5 separate regions of the Homo sapiens genome follow, and regions 1, 2, 3 and 4 are each linked to region 5. Evidence: fine-mapped expression QTL. A gene starts in region 5. Each other region holds a variant in brackets. All regions are shown on one strand. Distances are from middle to middle.

Region 1 (4,116 bases), 85 kb after region 5:
GTAATCCCAGCACTTTGGGAGGACAAGGCGGGTGGATCATAAGGTCAAGAGATCAAGACCATCCTGGCCAATACGGTGAAACCCTGTCTCTACTAAAAATACAAAAATTAGCTGGGCATGGTGGCACTCACCTGTAGTCCCAGCTACTCAGGAGGCTGAGGCAGGAGAATCACTTAGAACCTGGGAGGTGGAGTTTGCAGTGAGCCGAGATCTTGCCACTGCACTCCAGCCTGGTGACAGAGTGAGACTCTGTCTCAAAAAAAAACAAAAAAAAAAAAAAAAAAAAAATATATATATATATATATATATATATATATATATATATATATATATGTATAAAATTAGCCAGGCGTGGTGATGGGTGTCTGAAATCCCAGCTATTCAGGAGGCAAGAGAATCGCTTGAGCCCAGGAGGCAGAGGTTGCAGTGAGCAGAGATGGCGCCACTGCACTCCAGCCCGGGCAACAGAGTGAGACTCTGTCTCAAAAAATAAAAATAAAAATAAATAAAAATTACCCGGGCATGGTGGCATGTGCATGTAATCCCAGATAATCAGGAGGCTGAGGCGGGAGGATCACTTGAGCTTGGGAGGTTGAGGCTGCAGTGAGTCATGATCACACCACTGCACTCCAGCCTGGACAACAGAGCAAGACTCTATCTAAAAAAAAGAAGAGAGAGAGAATTTCAAGATGACAACAGCAGACCTGTAAACCAAGTGGGGGCCCTTCCAAACAAGGGGCTCTGTGGAATTGCCTAGATGGTACTCCCATGAAGCCACCCTGGTTCTACCCTAGCTTACCAAGAGCTTTCACAAAAACCAGCATAGAAAGTTTTCTGATAACCTTCAGGCAGTCAGAAAGCTCCTTTCTCTAGAACTTTCCATTCCATGCCAGCTGTTTTCACATGTTGGTGTTTGTAAGGCCTTAGAGCAACAGGGGCTCCCCTCTCCCAAGGAGCAATAACATCAACAACAGCAATAGCAGCTGCCATTATTGGACAATTAGCACATGCCGGCATGGTGTTGAGTTCTGCACACTTTTGACTCCTCGACTCTGCTCACCAATGCTATTAAGTAAATGCTGTCATAGGCAGGCTCTGAAAGTGGAAACGGAGGTACAAAGTAGGCCACTCACCCCAGGTTGCAGAGCCAGAAAGAAGAAGAACTGGGATTCACACCCAACCCTGCAGGGCTCCAGAGTCCACACGCTGGCCCAGGAAGGAAGGCAAAGGCCGGCGGGAGGTGGACGGAGGGTGGCAGAGCCACCCTAGGCCAGGGAGGGAAGGCTCCAGGGATGGGAGCCACCCTTTGCTCCACTGACTCCCCTCCCGACTTGGAGCTGTGAGCTCTGAGCTGCAATGGTCTTTGCCAAGCAGTCATTTCGCCATCCCCTGCCAGACCCTAGGGACCTCTGGGAGCACAGCAGAGCTGTCCAGCCCGGAGAGTCCAGGCCAGAGCACTGGGTAAGGAGCACACTCTGGGGTTCCTCAGACCCAGGTTCAAATCCTGCCTCTGCCACCCACCAGCTGTGTGACCTCAGACAAGGTACACTCCCCCTCTGAGCTCCTGGGTCTTTTTTGGCTTTTCTTTTTGAACCTCAGGTGTGCAGGGTGACGTTATCTGATGCCTCAATTCGCAACATGTTATCATGATTGCCCACACAGGCTGCCCTCTAGTTGTATTCATTTATTCCCTTTCACCCCAATCCCTACTCCCTGCCCACCTGACTCTCCTATGTTCAATGTGCAGCATGAGTTCATTGATTTTAGGTTTCTACTTTGATGCTGGCGTTTAACATATGTACAGTAAAGCGCATAAACAGACAGCTCAATGAACTCTTCTTTGTTGTTGTTGTTGTTGTTGTTGTTGTTGAGACAGGGTCTTGCTCTGTCACTCAGGCTGGAGTGCAGTGCCACAACCATGGCTCACTACAGCCTTGACTTCCTGGGTTCAAGCGATCCTCCCACCTCAGCCTCCTGAGTAACTGGGACTACAGGTGTATACCACCATATCTAGCTAATATTATTTATTTTTTGTAGAGACTGTGTCTCCCTACATTGCCCAGGCTGGTCTGGAACTCCTGGGCTCAAGTGATCCTCCCACCTCGGCCTCCCAAAGTGCTGGGGTTACAGGTGTGAGCCACTATGCCTGGCCTGAATTCTTATATATGGATAAATTCATGGAACTACCACCTGGGGTAAAACATAGGAATTTTGCAGATCCCAGAAGTCTTCCTCATGTCCCACTGCAGGCAATGACTCCTCTACCCCACAGAAGGAACCACTTTTGTGCCTTCTAGATTCAT[CTTA/A]CCTGTTCTTGAACTTCATATCAGAGGAATCACACAGAAAGTCGTCTTTTGTGTCTGGCTTCTTTCCCTCAGCATAATGCTTTTAACATTAATCTATAGTGTGCATGGGCTGGGCATGGTGGCTCATGCCTGGAGGGTTTGGGGATAAAGTGATGTCATGTCTACAGCTGCCTCTCAAATAATTCAGGCAAAAGAAAAAAATACAAATGGGGGAAAAGACAAAGTGGGGAAAAATATAAACAATATAGCTGAAGGATATCCTGAAGTTTCTTTTCTTTTTTTGGGACAGAGTCTTGCTCTGTCACCCAGGCTGGAGTGCAGTGGCGTGATCTCGGCTCATGCGACCTCCGCCTCCTGGGTTCAACCCATTCTCCTGCCTCAGCCTCCCAAGTAGCTGGGATTACAGGTGCGTGCCTCCACACCCAGCTAATTTTTGTATTTTTAGTAGAGACGGGGTTTTGCCATGTTGGCCAGTCTGGTCTCAAACTCCTGACCTCCAGTGATCCACCTGCCTTGGCCTCTCAAAGTGCTGGGATTACAGGCGTGAGCCACCAACCCTGGCCCAGCTGCTACTTTCTACCAGGGCCCAACAGGCGGGAAAGAAAAGGCAGATTCAGACCCTTCAGCATCACCCAGGACTTGAGGAAGGGAGTCCACATTGCACAAATGGGGTTTTGCCGCCTAAGACTTGTTTTTTTCTGCGTTTACAAGGGTTCAAATCAGTGCCGTTGGAGAGTGTTTGAGGCTGTCACAACATCTGGGGAACTGAGGCGTGGGGCATTCACATGGCTGTCAGGAGGAGGCCTTGGGCTCAAATTGTAGGGGGCGTGGGATCTTAAACCATCATTGGCAGCCAGACTGATGGGCAGGGTAGTGACACACTAAGATCCTGTCATCTTTGCTAGGCTCTGGTTTTATGGGATCTAAGGTTTTCCGTGGTTCTAGTTCCAGGTGGAGAGTGACAACTAACTCTGGCATGTTGCACATTCTCAGTAAATGAATTGTGGAGTAAATTCCTTGTGATGATAATTGATATTTATTGAGCATTTACTATATGCCAGGCAGTATTCTAAGCACTTTGCACCTATCATCTCCATTAATCCTCTCCACATCTTGTGAGATAGGTACTATTATTACCATCATTATTTTGTAAACAGGAAACTGAGGAACCGAGAAGTTAAGCCACATGCCCAAAGTCACAAGTTGTTAAGAGGAATATAAATGAATGAATGAATGAATGAATGGCAGTCCCTATCTAGATTAGCATTTTTCTTTTAAACATTACTGAAGCGAAAGTCCAGTTGCAACTCTTCTTGGGGAATAACAATCCAGCCCAAGCTCCCTGACTCCCTGTTCTCTCCAAGTCAGCCTCTCTCCTTCTCATTGCTTAAGGGGAAGTGTCCCCCATCCTGAGCCTGAGGTAGCTCGAGCTCCAGCCTTAGAAACACAAAGACCTGGGGCCCTAATGTGATGGGGACCCTATCATGTCCCAAGATCGCACGCATGTAGCTTCCTTTAGTTGTATATAGGCTCTTTTGGCCTGAAACAGTTCCTTTCTCAGTCTCTCCTTGACCCACATGACCTTGACATGTTCGAGGATGCAGGCCAGCTATTTTTTTTTTTTTTTTTTTTTTTGAGACGGAATCTCGCTCTGTTGCCAGGCTGGAGTGCTGTGGTGCAATCTAGGCTCAGCTCACTGCAACCTCCGCCTCCCGGGTTCAAGCAATTCTCCTGCCTCAGCCTCCCAAGTAGCTGGGACTATAGGTGCAGGCCACCATGCCTGGCTAATTTTTGTATTTTTAGTAGAGAT
Region 2 (4,116 bases), 72 kb after region 5:
GAGCCATCAGCCAGAGAAAGGACACTTGTGATGTTTGCTGAAGCATCATCTGGGCCAACAGCCACCCCTCCTGCGCGCCCATTCACTGATTGAACAAATCTCTGTGGAGCCCCTACTGTGTGCGGGGCCCTGTGCTGAGTGCTCAGAAAGCATCGTGATCACCACAGACAGCAGTCCCTGCAGTGTGGAAGGTGACATACTAAAGAGATAGACAGGCATTGACCAAACAAATAACAGATGTATAACATGATGGCAAGTAGGGAAGAAAGATGAAAGGGCTGGAGTGATGGTGGAGGTGACAGTTCAGCAGGTAGCCGGGGAAGGCTTCCCTGAGGAGGTGACATTGCGATGAGATCTGAATAAAGTGGCACATCCAGCTGGGGGAAAGAGCTGAAGGAACTGCATTCCAGGCAGCAGGAACAGCAAGTGCAAAGGCCCTAGTTAGGTCATGCCCAGTGTGTTGGAGGAATAGCAAGGGGCCCGGTGTGGCTGGAGTGAGTGAGCAAGTAAGAAAGGAGGGAGGATGAGGTCAGAAAGGCCATGGGGGCCAGATCAGACAGGGCCCTGTGATCCTGGGAAAGACCTCAGGTTTTGCTCTGCAGCTGGAGCCAAGGAAGGTTCTAAACAGAGGAAAGATGGGATCTGAGTGGGGTTCTAACAGCATCCCTTTGGCTGCACGGGGGAAGTGGGGCGTGACGATGACAGCAGTGAAAGCAGCAAGGAGGCTACTGCAGGAGAGAGAATGGTGGCCTTGAATTCAGCTGTGGAAGCGGAGGGGAAAACCTACGCAGGTTCTGGATGTTTTAAAGGTGGCGCTGACAGGATTTCCTGGCCAGTTATCGAATGCAGGGCAAGAGAGGAAATGAAGGGACAACCCGAGGTTTGGGCCTGAGCACCCAGAAGGATGGAGCTGCCATTTCCTAAGAATCAGGGACTATGACGGCCCCAGTGCTGGGGTCTGTCGTCCGCATTCCCTGCAAGCTCCCTGCTGACCCCCACCCCATTCTCTCTCGGGTCAGGGCCATGGAGGGAGAGAGTGAGCAGTCGGCCCTACCCAGGCTTCCGGGCAGGAAAGAGGCACCCAGGGCCTGGCCACAGGATGACACAACCCTTAATAATTTCTCCGCTGAGTTTTGCAATGGGCACCCTTTATCGACAGGCAAAGGGTGAGGGATTTTGCAACTGCCCCAACTGGTGGTTGTAGCTGATGTCAGGCCAGAGGGCTATCAGGCCAGGCTATGGGCATCTTCTCAACCCATGAGGATTGAGTCGCAAACAGGCCATCCAGGCCTGAGCCATCGTGGGTGGTATAGAGGGCCTCAGGGCCCACAGGGTTCAAACCTCAGACCCTCCACCTGGCCAATGACTTTGGGCAAGTCCCTTCCCCTCCCTGGACCTCAGCTCTTTCCCTTAAAAAAAAAATAAAAAAAATAAGGAGAGCCATTAAAGGAATTATTTTAAATTACTTAAAAGCTTGTATCCAATGGCCCGGTTAACGTTCATCCAGTGCTTCCTGTGTACCCGGCCCTGTGCTAAGAACCCTCTGGCAGCACCTCATCCGATCCCCATGTCACCCTTAAACTTATTTCCCCACTTTACAAATGGGGAAACTGATGCTTAGGAGGAGGAAATGACTGCCTAGGTCCCCCAGCCTGTCAGGGATGGAGCGGGGACTCGGACCCAGACCTTTCCGACCCCAAAGCCTACACCCCGTTGTTAGGAAGTCGCTGCCACGCTGAGATGTAGTTTCCTCGTTTGTAAATGGGAAGTCCAAACTAAATAGAAATTAAGCAGCACCACCCT[G/C]GTGGGGTTGGTGCCTGGCACCTGGGGAGCATTCAAACCCAGCAGCCATTCTTATGACCAGAACACTCGTCACTGGCACACAGAGCTGGCGGCCAGCACCACCCCTAAGGGTACCCCCATGCCCCACCCTCACCCCTCCTGGCCCCACACTGGCCCTGTGGGGCACAGACAGGACACAGGCTTTAGAAACATGCACTCCGTGGTCCAGATCCCCCTTCCACCCTCTCGCCATGCCCCTGGGCACTGCCTCCCCCTTCCACTGGGGGTGACAATTCCCTTCCACCACACAAGGCTGTTTCTGGGTCACAGGAGGCCACAGGTCCATGTTAGGCCCAGTGTGTGGACACAGCTCCATTTGACACAGGAGGATCCAAGGCCCAGTCTGGAAAAGGGGCTTGCCTGGGACTTTCAGCCAAAGAGAACGAGGTGCGGTCACCACGCCCACTGGAAGAGGGCCTCTGCCTGCTCCAGGCCTGATGCAAAAGCTTGCCCGGCAAAGCCTCTGTCTCTGGGTCTCTCCCCTCTTTATTTCTCAGCCTCTCTCTTTCCCTCTGTGTCTCTCACATCAGTTCTTTCAGGGTGTCTCTCTGTGTCTCTCCATCTCACCCCCATGTCTCCCTGTCTCACTATCTGTACCTCTGGCCTAGGTGGTGTCTTCCCCACACACTCATCTGCTGGGCTCACCACCTCCTCTGCATTCCTGGCTCTGTAAATGTTTACTGAGGTGAAGGTGTCTGGCCGCCTCATTTGCTTGAAACCCTCACCCAGCACCGCCCCCTTCTCACCTCCACCACCCAAGGGCTCCCCAGGGAGGAAGGACAGGTGGGGGACCCACAGCCCTAGGAATAGTCAAAATGACCCAAGTTCAGGGGTCTGCGCTCGTAGGCAGCCAGATCCCCGCTCAGTGGGTGTGGGTGGACTCCACCCACGACATTCGAGGCACAGATGCTGATTAGGTCCCCTTCCCCACTTGCAGCAATTGGCAGAGGCTGGACATGGAATGCATCTGTGGCCAGTGAGATGGGGAAGTCTGCCAAGGGGCTTCTGGGAATGGTTTCTTCATTCTTAACAGGACATGTGAGGGCCTTTCCTGCTTGGCTGTATGAGGAAGAGATGGCAGGAGCTTTGGCAGCCATCGTGGCACCATGAGGAGCTGGGCTGAGTGGAGACGGCAGAACCATGAGATAGGAAGAAACTGGGGCCTTGATAGTGCCCAGCTCTGACTCACCCAGCTATGATTCATTCAGTCATTCAACAAATATGGATTGAGCACCTACTATGTGCCAAGCCCACGATGGGCGCTGGGAACACAGAAGGAACATGATCCCTGCCTTACATTCTGGGGTGGGGGACAGATTTCAATCAAATAATCATCCAAGCAAGTGTAAAAACACAGCCATAGTCAGGGCTGCAAGGAGAGATCCATGGAGAAGAGACCAGAAAGGGGGACAGGGAGGGCAGGGAAGGCATCTTAGGTCAGGTTGCCCAGAAGAGGAGCCTGACTTGGGGACTGGCATGCACGTGATTCACTGAGGACATGCTTTTGGGAGAAGGGTGCGAGAAGCAGGACAGGGCAAGGTGGGAGCTAAGCCAGGATATGGCCTCCGCTGAGTCTCACTTGGCCTGATCCCCCGGGGAGCTCTGGAACGTGAATTGCACCACCACACTCCTCCCACCTCAAAGTAAGAGGCCTGAGTCCTGGTCTCATTGGTCACTGGCTGTGTCCACCTCTGTTTGGGGGATGGGAGGCAGCTCCTGCTCAGCGAGGCAGGACTCCAGCTTTAAGGGGCCCCAGCTGGGAGCCCACAGCAGCCAACACTGTGTGGCAGCAGGAAGATGCATGCAGATCCCACCAAAGAGGCTCTGGGGAATCCCCACAGCACCTGCTACCAGAGGTCCACCTGATCTGAGATCTGGCATTAACTAGGTGAAGAGGAGAAACGAAAGTGTTCCAGTAGAGAAAGCAAAGTGTGCCAAGGCCCTGTGGCAGGTGGGAGCTGGGTGCAATGGAAAGAAAACCAAGGTGGCTCTAGCAGGGCAAGTGACAGTGAGAGTGGCCAGAGATCAGGGGAGGGGGCCGCCACTGTGCAGCACCTGTGGGTCTGGATAAGGAGGCCAATCTTTATTCTGAAGGCAGTAGGAGCCCTGGAGGCTGTGGAGCAGGGGAGGAGCGTGACCCAGCTCATGTTTTTTTGTTTGTTTGTTTGTTTAGATAAGTTCTCGCTCTGTCCCCCAGGCTGGAGTGCAGTGGCACAATCTCGGCTCACTGCAACCTCTGCCTCCTGGGTTCAAGCAATTCTCATGCCTCAGCCT
Region 3 (4,116 bases), 98 kb after region 5:
GGAGCGGGGACTGCTGGGACGCCATCACAGGCCACGCAGGAGATTGGCCAAGCTGAGAAAGAACTCAGGAGGGGGTGGAAGGGCAGGACAGGAAAACAGCAAAGGAGAGGCTCAGGGCCATGGGGGAAAACAGGCAGAGAAGGCCTCTCAGGTTCAAATGCAAGGTGAGAATTCAAACCTCACATCAGCCACTCACCAGCTCTTGGACCGGTGACTTCACCTTTCTGTGCCTCATTTTCCCCATCTGGGGAGGGGGAGTAATAAGTAGCACCCATGGCCGGGTGCAGTGGCTCAGGCCTGTAATCCCAGCATTTTGGGAGACTGAGATGGGCAGATTACTTGAGGTCAGGAGTTCGAGACCAGCCTGGCCAACATGGTGAAACCCCATCTTTATGAAAAACACAAAAATTAGCCGGGCATGGTGGAGCAAGCCTGTAATGCCAGCTACTTGGGAAGCTGAAGCAGGAGAAGTGCTTGAATCCAGGAGGCGGATCTTGCAGTGAGCCGGGATCATGCCACTGCACTACAGCCTGGGTGACAGAGTGAGACTCCTTTAAAAAAAAAAAAAAAAAAAAAAGCACCTACATCATTGGGATTTTAAGAATAAGGCATGCAGGACACCAGCAGGTGCAAAGTGAGCATCCAGTAAACTGCAGCCCACCATACTCCTGACTCCCTGGGCTCAGGGGTCTCTGCTCAGATGCCACTTCCTAGGAGGGGCCTCGCAGGACCGCTCCCACTCACCTCTGCCCCACTTTCCTTCCTGCAGAGCCCTTGACTCCATCTGCCATTATCTTGTTCCAGTCACTGGATACTTAGCATCTGTGTCTCCCTGAAAATTATCACCTCCATCTTGGCCACCACATGTCCCCAACACCCAGTAAGGGGCCTAGCACACAGCGGGTGCTCAATAAATGTTTGTCAAATAAATGAAAAATATAACTGGGCAAAAAAACGACTGAGAAACTGGGAGAAAACAGTCTCAGAGAGGTCTGGACAAAACTTGGAAGGCAGGGGAATATTCTTTTTTTTTTTTTTTGAGACAGAGGCACGCTCGCTCTGTCGCCCAGGTTGGAGTGCAGTGGTGCGACCTTGGCTCACTGCAACCTCCGCCTCTGTGATTCAAGTGATACTCATGTCTCAGCCTCCTGAGTAGCTGGGACTACAGGCACCCACCGCCACACTAGGCTAATTTTTGTATTTTTTTAGTAGAGACCATTTTGCCCGGGGTTGGTCTCAAACTCCTGACCTCAAATGATCTGCCGTCCTCAGCCTCCCAAAATGTTGGAATTACAGGCGTGAGCCACCTCGCCCAGCCTGCAGGGAAATATTCTTCAGGTGTTCAGAAGGAGCAGTTCCCCTTCTCACTCCCACTCCAGCTTCTGCCATTCTTAGCTGTGCAAACTTAAGACAGGTCAGTTCACCTCTCTAAGCTGGTTTGCACAGCAGCAAAATGCTAGTAACAAAAGCTGCAGCCTCCAAAAGGCTAATGAGTTGATTAAACCAAGGAGCACAGTGTCAGTGTGGAACCGG[C/G]ACCCAGCAGTGTCTCGAGCGTTCATTTCTGACATCCACTTATCTCCTTGCTAAAATCACCAGGCCGTGGGACAATTGCATAAGATTATGAGGTGTGAATGTGTCTTGTTTTGTGAACTCTCTTGTCCTGAGCAAACATTAGTTGGGGTTCCAGGCTCCCACCTCCCAGCTAGCCTCAGTGGTCAAACACACTAAATGGGTCTGTGGTTAACATGACCGGCTTTCTCCCACATATCTAAGGACCCAGCACCTCCCTCTGTGCCAAGGGCTTGGAGTGGTGCTTTGCACATCTAAGCCCTTGTCTCACACCTGCTATTATCATGATTCCTCAAGGCTCGTCCCTGGCCTCCTGGGCTCGCCTCACCCCATCCCACCCCCTCCTGTTTCTGGATGTCGGAATGGACTGGTTCCTCCCTGCGAGCCCTTCACCCTTGCAGCTTGGTGAACTGTGGGGTTGGTGTTGCCCTAACTATGACATCTCCCCAAGTCCTTTGGGCACAGCTCCGTCCACAGTGCTCCCATACCAAGCCACCGTCAAAGCCCTCAACCTGTGAACTGCTTCTCCCAGCCCTCCTTAGAGGCAGCCCAAGGGGTTCAGGTTCAAATTCACTTTCTGTTGCTTCCAAACTGTGAAACTGATGTTTGCAGTTCTGGGGCTTGGAGTGCCTGAACTTGAGGTCAGGCAAGGAGCCCTCCAAGAAGAGCCTGGGATTTTAAACAGGAACTGGGATTACAAACCAGGCTCCCAGCCCCAAACTTTCCCCATAGACTTGGGAGTCGGATGGTTTTGTAACCTGCTCCACCTAGCCCACCTTGAGCACAAACCTCACTTCTGTGGACCTCAATGTGTGCTTTTAGAAATGGGTCTAGCACCTTCTGTGGGGTACTGTGGATGAGAGCAAGATGTGAGTGTGTGAAGAACTGACTCAACGCTGGTTCCAGGACAGCACTGGGGAAACAGAAGCGAAGCTGTGGGGCAGACGGGGGCGGAAGAGGGGCACCGTCTGGCCAGGCTGCTTCCCTCTCACCTCATTTGGGTGAGCAGTGGCCACCAGCCAACTCTTGGTGACAAAGGAGGGAGCAGGGATTTGAGATTTGTTCCTCAATTTCGACCCTCTCCACCTCCCTCCTTCCCTAGGTCCAGCCCCTCAGCCTCTGCCTTCAGCAAGTAAATCCTTGAGGTCAAGCCCACATTGCTGTCGCTGCTACTGACAGAAACCATCGAGACCAGTGGGGCTTGGGACTGAACTGACTTCGAGGCTTTGAAGGCATGCCCGGCCAGTTGTCCAGTTGCCCAGGGCTGGGAGGGGACGTGGTCAGGGCCACGCTGCAGGTCCCAGGTTGAAGTGAGGTTATCTGTGTCCAGCAATCTGCATAGCCCTCGAGCCACCATCAGGAGACACTGGCATTAGGGAGGTGGAGCTTATAGGAATCCTCCGCTTTGTGGCGGTGGGGGATGAGTGTCGCTGTCTGTTCCCCACATCCCAGGCTCCCACAGGGAAAGCACAACCAGGCCCCCAAAAGGAAAAGGAGGGGCAAAGCATTTCCCATTCGCGAACCACGGTATCAGCAACTGCTCCTGAGATCCCAGACCGCCCCAGGTCCTTGGCAAACCAGGCTACGATGCCTGCTGCCCCTGAATTCCTCAGGGCAGGGCAACCCCCAACCAGTGTCTTGCCCATAGGGATCGGACAGCCCAAAGCTGCTCCCCACCTCTAAAAACAGGCGTCATAACAATCCCCACCTTCCCAAAGGTTATTGTGAGGTCTAAATGGGATGGGGCAGGTCCAGTGTTTACCAGATGCCGGCCCCTGGCAAGTACTGGCCACACTGGCGCTGCACTGGAGACTGGGGTGCCAAATGCCAGCAGCTTCCCAGCAAAAAATAATAACAAGAGCAAGCGCTTATATAACACTTCTTGCGTGCCAGGCACTGTGGGACGCTGTACATGTATCCACTCACATCCATCTACATCCTCAACTCTCAGGAATGCCATCCAGGGCTGGATGGGAGTAGGGGGTGCGGTGAGAAGCCGGAAGGGGCAAAGGGATCAGTGGGCAGGGAAGAGGAGCCTGTCCCAGGGAATCAGGGCTAGCAGCCCCACGTTTGTGCCTGGGCTCAGCCACCTTGAGCAGGCAGGTGAGGTGGGCTCAGTGTCCAAGTCTGGGCAAAGAGAGCAAGTGATGAGCCTCCCATCCTCAGGAAAGGTAATCAAAGTGTGGGAACCCCTCCCCCACCTCTCTCCACCTGGCCTGGCCTCTCCCCTCCTGCTGGCCAGGGACACACAAACACAGACTCGCCCACACACCCAGGCTCCCCTCTTTAAAATACACATGTATACACAAACTGTGTTTTAAACAACCCACCCCACTACACTGACCAAAAGCATCTGCCCTGACTCGGGCTCAGCAGGACCAAGACCTGAACCCCCTCCTCCTACAGTCACAGGCCTGCCTACCTAGTCCCCAAACACAGGGCAGGGGTCACAGACCTCCCAGCCCTTCCAAACCCAAGCCTGACACTCGGGACCAGCCAGAGGCTCCGGAATCTCTTCTCAAGCAGGGTTCCCAGCCACCCGTCCCG
Region 4 (4,116 bases), 46 kb before region 5:
TCTCCTAGTCTCAGAGCCTTCTGCCGGATCCAGGAGCTCCTCAAGCGTCTGCCCTTTCTGGGACAGAACTTTCCAGCAACAGAAAGTTGAGGAAGCCCCTCTCTGGAAACCCTGAGCCTCCTTGATGGGGCTTGCATTCTGCTTTGGGGCAGAATGTGGGACTGTGGGACAGGAGGACGGGGCGTGAACCCCAGTCCTAAGCCCAGATGTCGGCTGGAGATCCTCAAAGCCAGGGCCTCTTCTCAAGAGTCTGATGGCCCCACCAGCCATTTCTCTCACCCAGACCCCAAGTCAGACTGGACACTGTCACCATTGTCCTGGAGGCCAAGAGACCCGCAGACCAGAATTCAAAGCCTTGCCCCGCTGCGGGCTGAGACAGTCGCTTGGGCTCTGTGGTCTCATTCCTGCATCTGTAAAATGCATCCTTCCATTGTAGGAATTCAACAAGCACATGACATGGGGCTGGTGCTGGGCAGAGGAGAGAAGAAGTGACAGTGAGCACGCACCCTGGGCTGGTGCTGAACCCGCCACACACGTCCTTCTTCCCTTCTCACCACAAAACCCTGCATCTGTTCATTCAATGCTGGATGAGTGCCCCCTATGTGCCAGGCTCTGAGATTTAATGGAGGACAGTGGAGAACTGGCCTCTGCCTGCTGGGAGCTTACAGTCTGGCCAATGGGGAGTTATGAACCCCCTAAATTATTGTGTCAAGTAGTGGTCAGTGTTATGGGAAAACATTCACGCAGGGTGAAGAGGTAAGGCCAGGGGAGCAATTTGGAAGGGCCGGGGGTCAGAGCAGGACCCCCGGGGTCATTTAAGCAGACACCCAGATCAGGAGAGGGAAGAAGCCCTGTGGCTATCTGGAGGAAGGATGCTGAAGGCAGCGGAAACAGTGTGTGCAAAAGCCCCGAGGTAGGCGTGTGCTTAGCATGTTGGAGGAACAAAGAGGAGCCCAGTGTGGCAGGGGTAGAGGGAACCAGAGAGAGTGAGTAAGAGGAGATGGGCCAGGCGCGGTGACTCACACCTGTAATCCCAAGCACTTTGGAAGGCCAAGGTGGGCAGATCACTTGAGCTCAGGAGTTCGAGACCAGCCTGGGCAACATGGCAAAACCCCATCTCTACTACAAAAAATACAAAAATTAGCTGGCCGTGGAGGCATGTGTCTGTAGTCCTACCTATCTGGGAGGCTGAGGTGAGAGGATGACTTGAGCCCAGGAGGTTGAGGCTGTAGTGAGATGTGTTGGCACCACTGCACTCCAGCCTGGGTGACAAAGTGAGACCCTGTCTTAAAAAAAAAAAAAAAAAAAGAGACAGAGAGAGAGAGATGAGGTTATAAGGGAAGCATGGGAAAGATCTTGTAGGGCCTGGTAGGCCACAGAGATCTTTGACTTTCTGCCAAGTGAGGTGGGAGCCGTGGGAGGGTTTTGAGCACAGGAAGGTCATGTCCTGACCTCCTATACTCATCCTCATCTTAAAGGTGAGGAAACTGAGTCTCAGAGAGGTGAAGTTACCCACCCAAGGTCACACAGCCAGCAAGTGGCAGAGCTGGAGTTTGCCCCCACATCCCTGTGGCTCCCAAAGCCAGCCTCTTCCCATCCCATCAGCTGCCTCTGTGTCTGGCGTGAGTCAGGAGGCTGGATTGCTGGGAGGGGGAGAGCTTTTTAGAGCTGCTTTTTGGAGCCTCCTGGCTCTGCCTGGCACATCCCCTCCTTCCCCACCCATGCCTTCTCCCTTGCCCTCAGCCACCCCCAGCTGCCTGCGGTGAGTGCCTAACATTTAAGGCTATCCCCTCCCAAGTGCAGATTGGATTTTTTTCTTTCCATAAGTCCCCATTATGCCCCAGTAGACTGGATTTTGGGCAATAGAAAAAACGAGCCTAAAGAACTCCAGCGCTAATTGGGGGTGACAGGCAGGGGCTCGGGGCCTCTGGAGCAGCCTGGCTCTGTCTCTAATTTGCAGAGTGGCCAGGGTAAGTCCCTGGCTTCCAAAGTCATGCTTGTTTGAAGGACAATCACTTTCTTTTTCTTGTAAAAGGAAGATAAATTGTCAGCCTGTCGGTTTCATTATGAGCTCGTCCGCTGTCTTTCCAGTAACTGAGGGCGAGAGGCTGAGCCGCTGCCCAGAGGCTGCCTGTGAGGCCTTGGGGGCTGTGGTTGATGCCACCTGGCCTCCTTCGCATCACCTCCCTCTCAACACCCCTCCCACCCCCTCCAATAATTGTGGTATTTGGTTTTCCCTCAACACCAAATGTGAAACTCTCCTGGAGGGAGTGCAAAAGGAAGTCTGTGAATCTCTGAACTGTGGTTGAATGAAGGTATTCTTAGGCGCCTGCTTGCAAGG[A/G]TGGTGAACTTCTGGTGCTAAAAGCAGAATTGCTTTTCAGTAAATGTTATTACTCAAAAGGAAGTTGTTACCACCACAGCCACCTCGAGCCTCTTCCAACTGCCACTCTGTCTGCCAGGCCAAGTGGGGAAAGGGTCTCTCAGTGGCTCCCAATGACCCCATCCAGCCCCCAGGGGAAGGTCTTGCTATCTCAGCTGACCCTGGAGGCCTGAAGCTGAAGTGCAAACAACCACAGTCTGCCTAGGCAGAGTATCTCAAGGTAGGGGCTGTTTGCTGACTCAGCATTTAAAAGTCCCAAAGCTTGAGTGATCTTGGCTGAGCTGGGCTGGAGCTACAGGTGGGGTTGGGGGCACACAAGAAAGCTGCCCGTTGGCTGCAAGGTTGGCTGTTTTTTGAGAGCTGTTGTCCATCTTGGCAATGCACCTTGCCTAACCCCTATTTCCTCTTCTCTAAAATGGAAAGGTGATCATACCTCAATGGAAAGAGCTAGCATATTGATTACTCTAGTAGATACTTAATAAGTGGTGAGGTTATTATCAACAGTGAAAATGATTCTGGATTTAAATCAGACAGACCAGGGCTCAGATCTCAGCTCTGCCACCTACTAGTTGCACAACCTTGGACAAGTCCATTCCCCTCACCAAGTCTCGGTTTTCTCTGGATCACGCAGGAGTGATTATAGCACCTACTGCTCAAAGTTGTTGGGAGAATTCCGTGAGCTGCAGCACGTAAGTCACAAGGCACACAATAGGTATGCAGTAGGCATGGGTTCCACTCCTGCTCCATTTTGCCTTACAGAGGATCACCCCCCAGGCTGTGTCCCCACCTGAGCAGTCCCAACCACAGGCTCCAGGTGGAGAGACACCCATGAAAGTTTGCACCCACCGGGGTCCAGAGGGCAGACAAGAAGCGACCAGGCCAAACTCAGGGGAGTGGAATGGACCACTCAGCAGACACTTCCCTGCAAGAAAGAAGTCAAAACAAACCCCCTGGCTGGTGAGACATGATCCCAATCTAGAGCTCTCAGAGGATGCTCTCGGGTCCAATCCTCTGCCTGCCTCTACCTGTAGCCTTTTCTACAGCCCGGAAAAGTGGCAATTTCATTTACTGGGCAGCCACTGCAAGTGAGCATTGTGCTCTGCATGTCTCATGAATCACGTCATCGTGTCCCCCCAGCAACCCCACGAGACAGTTCCTCTCATTGCTCAGCACCTGCAGGTGTGGAAACTGAGGCCCAAGGAGGTGAAGGGACTGGTAGCTGAGATTTGAACCCAGCCCATCCCATTGTCAAGTCACACACATAATCACCGCACTACTTCCGTTATCTGAGAACAGTGTGTCTGTGTTACCAAAGATATAATTATATTTAGTAGTGTCTGGGTATAGAAAATTGTATAATATATTCTTTTTAAAATGTATTCTTTTGAGATTATTATAGATTTACATGCAGTTGTAAGAAATAAACAGAGAGAGTCCATATACCCTTTCCAGTTTCCCCCAATGTTAACAGTCACAATAAAGATATTGACAGTGATATAGTCAAGATACAGACATTTCTATCACCACGAGGATCCCTCATTGCCCTTGTATAACCAAACCCATCTCCCACCCCCAACCCTGCCCCCGAGCCATGGCAACCACTAATCTGTTCTCCATTTCTATAATTGTGTGGTTTCAAGAATGTTACATAAATGGAATCATATAGTTTATGTAACCTTTGAGGACTGGTTTTTTTCACTCAGCATAATTCTCTGAAGATTTATTCAAATTGTGTG
Region 5 (4,116 bases):
TTTCCCAGACAACGCCTGCACCTCACCGCCACCTCTGGGCCTGTCTGTGTGCTGCTTCCCCTACTGGGAACGCTCTCCCAGCCCTTCTGCCCCAGCCACAGCTTGGAGGTCACCTCCTCCGCCAGGAAGCCATCCAGGCAGCCCCACAGCCCACAGCTCTCGGGGCTGCAGGGATGAATGTGGGACCCTCTCCTCCACGGCCTGTGTTCTGGCTTCTGGCTTCTCCGGGGGAGTTGAACTCCCTCGATTCTCATGCCTGTCCAGCCACTGACCTTCTAGGGGAAGCTGGCTCGGGCCTCACTGAGCTCATCTGTGAGATGGGTAGAAGTTCTGAATGCGATCTCAGGCAGTCTTGCCATCTCTCACATAGGCTCCTGCCCAAGTCCCAGCCGCGGCTGCTCACTCAGCCCACCAAGCCCTGCATGGTCCAACCCCTGCTGGCCCTCCAGCACCATGTCCTGCTGCTGTCCCCTCCTCACACCCCTTCAGCCTCCTTGCCTTTCCTGGAACTTCCCAAACCCATTCCCACCCTCAGGGCCTTTGCACGTGCTGTGGTGAGTTTCCCTCTGCTGGAAATCTCTTCCCCAGGTCTGGTCCTTCTTCTCCTTCAGGCATCTGCTCCACATCACCGCCTCAGAAAAGCCCTCTCTGACCCACTCAGCTCCCAAACACCCCTGCTGATTCCCATCACGGCCCTTCTCTCTGGTGAAATCCTCTCGCCTCTTCAAGCATTTGCTCACCGATGTTTATCTCCTCCATCCTCTCCTCCACCATAGTGAGGGCAGAGACCTTGTTCACTGCTGGGTCCCCTGGAGCCTGGCATACAGTAGGTGCTCAAGCAGTGGTGGTGGAATGAAGGGAAGAACATCAAAGTGCTGCCCCACCCCTGCCCACCACCGGCCCCCAGCCCAAAATCAGGGAGTGGGAACCAGGAGGCCCCACTCCCGCCAGCAGCAGGCGCCCCCTCTGAGCCCGAGCCTGTCTGGTTCCCAGGCCCATAAAAACCACCGCCCTCACCTTGCCCTGGGGCGGCAAAGGGTGAAGGAGGAAGCTGTGGGGTTCAGAGATTGAACTGTCATGGATTCAGAGGCCTGGGCCAATGAAAGTCAGTGTTCACAGAGTGCCTTCTGCGTGTCCAGGTGCAGTTGAGACACCCCACACTCACAGCCCTCACTGCAGTTCTGCAAGATCAGGACCACCACGATCACCCTTCACAGGTGAGGAAACTGACGCACGGTAGGGTGCAGCCACGTGCTCCAGGCTGTGCAGCCTGAGAAAGGTGAAGTCAGCATTGGAACCCAGCTCCGCCCGACACCGCAGCCAGCATTGCTCTCATCCATGGCAGTGCACGGAGACCATGTCGGTGCCAGCTATGTGCCAGGTGCTGGTTCAGAGCACAGGTCCTGGAGCCAGACTGCTCAGTGCGTTAGGCAGGTGACTCAGCCCCTCTGTGCCTCAGTTTCTCCAGCTGTGAAACAGTCCACATGGCACCTCCCTTGTCGGCTGCTGAGGAGACGAAAGGAAATTATTTCCAGTCAAACAGAGTGCTCTTGTTGCATGCCCTTGGGAGAATTCATTCCCGCTCTGAGCCTCAGTTTCCCCATCTATCATATGGGGATTAAACTACGCCACTGTGTTGCATCGCTGCGAGACTAACGTGACGTATTTGCACAGTGCCTCCCGCACAGTGGACGTTTACTCAGAGCTCACTGTTCATTCACTCCAGTCCTGCAGGCCTCACTGTCCCCATCTGTAATCCCAGAAGGCAGCCCTGATCACCCAAGACGGCTGCTAAGTCCCTAGTGCAAAGGTCGAGGGGTCCCAGGGCAGCCCTGACAACTGGGGATATCCTGGGGGTGGGGAGGACAGCTGAGTGGCCGGGATCAGGAAGCTGCAGGGGGCCCAGGTGACTCACCCGCTGGCGGGGCTTGGGGGCTGGGCTGCGGCCCCCACGCACCCCTCTGGGCCCTGCCTTGTGCCCAAAAGTGCTGTGTCATGCTCCGTCATGTGGCTCCGGGTCATTAATACCCGAGTTCTGGGAAGCTTGGGCCGAGTTCCCGGAAGGGGTCAGCCAGTTCAGTAAACAGATTGGCTGGTTCGTCGTCACAGCTGAGCCGGGCGGGCCTGCAGCTCAAGAGGCAGGAGATGGAGGCTGGTGGCCAAGGGGACACAGGAACTGCCCCCGGCCCCATTCGGGGCTGGCACCTCCCAGGGCAGCCTGGCCCAGGCTCTGCAGATGAAAGGAGAAACCAAGGCCCAGAGAGGGCAAGGCAGTTGCCAGAGATCACACAGCAGGTCCGGGGCGCGGACCTAGAATTCTGGTCTTATCATCCAGTGCTCTCAGCATCACTCTGACTGATGGGCAGGGGGGGACAAATCACCTCAAATTGTAACCTAAGCCCCCCAAGCCCCCAAATCCTAACCTGGACCCTAAGGCCAGTGTGTTGGATGAAGGGAGAAATAAATGGAAGGCAACTTGGGAAGGAAGCAACTTTGAGGGGTTACTGGGCTGTCCCCTGTGGTCGATCCTATAATCATAGTAACTGCTTCTAGTGTTTCTTGAGCATCTATTATGTACAGGGCATTACCATAAGTGCCTTCCATAAATCCACCCATTTAATATTCAGCCACCTTTATACGAATAAACACAGGCATCACGTTTAAAGCATCCACTGAGTGCCAGGCACTGAGCTGGGTGATTGACATACACCACCCGGGATCCTCTGCGGACCTTGCCAGGGAGGCATCGCCGTCACCCCTGTTCATCAGATGAGGAAACAGATGCCCAGGAGGGCGAGCAGCTGAGGTGTATGGTGGGAGAACAGCAGGCTCCAGAGTCGACTAGACCCAGGGATTCAAATCTTTACTTTTACCCTTCCTGCTGTATGGCCTCAGGCAAGTGACTCCACCTCTCAGAGCCTCAGTTTACCCATCTGGTAAATGGGGATGATTATGGTACTGGAAACACTGGAGCCAGACTTGGTGGGAGCTCGTGAGTGTCATGATAGGGCAGTGGCTGGAGTGCAGACTTTTGGGTTGAATCTTGCTGTGCCCCTTCTTGGCTGTGTAACCTCGGGCATGCCGCTTAGCCTCTCTGGGACTCAGTGTCCTCTGTAAAATGGACATAGCACCTCCCTCATGCGGCAGGTGGGAAGAATGAATGAGCAGAAATCCCCGCAGCCTTCTGTGCGAGGCCAGGTATTCTGCAGCCACTGAACGCAGGTGACTTGTTCTTATATTTCACCTATGATGGCTCCACTGGGACTGGGGTGAGGGGAAGGACACTAGACCATGGGCAGAAGGACAAGGCACCCACATTCTTTGCTGCCCTTTTGCACCCACAAACAATCTGGAAAGGGAAGCTCAGCCTTGCCTGCCTCCTTGAGGGTCGGGGCTGAGGCTTGGCGTGAATGGTTGCCATGGCATCCTCCCCACCTCCCCACCAGCCACTCTGCCTTGCTATGGACTCCACGTTCCTCCCCTACTTAAAACCCTCTAGGGCTCCCCATTCCTCTTCTCGTGTACTACTCCCCAGTTTGGCTGAGCCCCAGACAGGCCTTATCATGGCTCTTTGGTTCTTGGCACCCCAGCCCCAGCCCCCTTGGTACAAACTCTCACACTCATCATTCCCACCTCACCCTTGTGCACACACAGGGCCCTTCACCCGGCATGCCCTCACTTTCCCTAACCCACCTGCCTGGTCTGGATTTCACCCACCCTTCAACGCACGTATTCAAAACCTCCTCCTCCAGGGAGACTGCCCTGATCCTCCCCTTTGAAAGCGAACTCTTTCTAGACTCTCTCTATATATATACCTCACTTACGTCTTTCTATCATTATATATCAACTATTTTTGTCCACCACCTCAAATTTTGGCAGCTGTGAGGTAGAAAATTTGCACAAGGGAGATTTTGGGGAAAAAATATTGCCTCTAAAATACTTAAAGAAATCTGCTGGCCAGGTGTGGTGGCTCACTACTGTAATCCCAGCACTTTGGGAGGCCGAGGCAGGTGGATCACTTGCAGTCAGGAGTTGGAGACCAGCCTGGCCAACATGGTGAAACCCTGTCTCTATCAAAAAATACAAAACTTAGCCAGGTGTGGTGGTGCATGCCTG

What was found. PIP is the estimated chance that this variant, and not a neighbour inherited with it, causes the effect.
Region 1: its variant is fine-mapped to the expression of LINC01270 in whole blood (TOPMed, PIP above 0.99).
Region 2: its variant is fine-mapped to the expression of LINC01270 in whole blood (TOPMed, PIP 0.93).
Region 3: its variant is fine-mapped to the expression of LINC01270 in whole blood (INTERVAL, PIP 0.94).
Region 4: its variant is fine-mapped to the expression of LINC01270 in whole blood (INTERVAL, PIP above 0.99).

What each region holds. Positions count from the first base shown.
Region 1 is chr20:50,205,512-50,209,627 of GRCh38, reverse strand. No RefSeq gene overlaps it. Among named protein-coding and RNA genes, the nearest start is that of CEBPB-AS1, 16 kb to the right of the region's middle. The variant CTTA/A (reference allele first, on the strand shown) is at 2,304.
Region 2 is chr20:50,218,699-50,222,814 of GRCh38, reverse strand. No RefSeq gene overlaps it. Among named protein-coding and RNA genes, the nearest start is that of CEBPB-AS1, 29 kb to the right of the region's middle. The variant G/C (reference allele first, on the strand shown) is at 1,804.
Region 3 is chr20:50,192,963-50,197,078 of GRCh38, reverse strand. No RefSeq gene overlaps it. Among named protein-coding and RNA genes, the nearest start is that of CEBPB-AS1, 3.0 kb to the right of the region's middle. RefSeq lists an enhancer at 2,981-3,542. The variant C/G (reference allele first, on the strand shown) is at 1,534.
Region 4 is chr20:50,337,113-50,341,228 of GRCh38, reverse strand. No RefSeq gene overlaps it. Among named protein-coding and RNA genes, the nearest start is that of LINC01271, 18 kb to the right of the region's middle. RefSeq lists an enhancer at 1,916-2,115. The variant A/G (reference allele first, on the strand shown) is at 2,342.
Region 5 is chr20:50,290,630-50,294,745 of GRCh38, reverse strand. It overlaps LINC01270 (long intergenic non-protein coding RNA 1270), which reads right to left and starts at 2,026. Exons shown (of 5, transcript NR_034124.1): 1 at 1,916-2,026. RefSeq lists enhancers at 123-623, 1,737-2,473.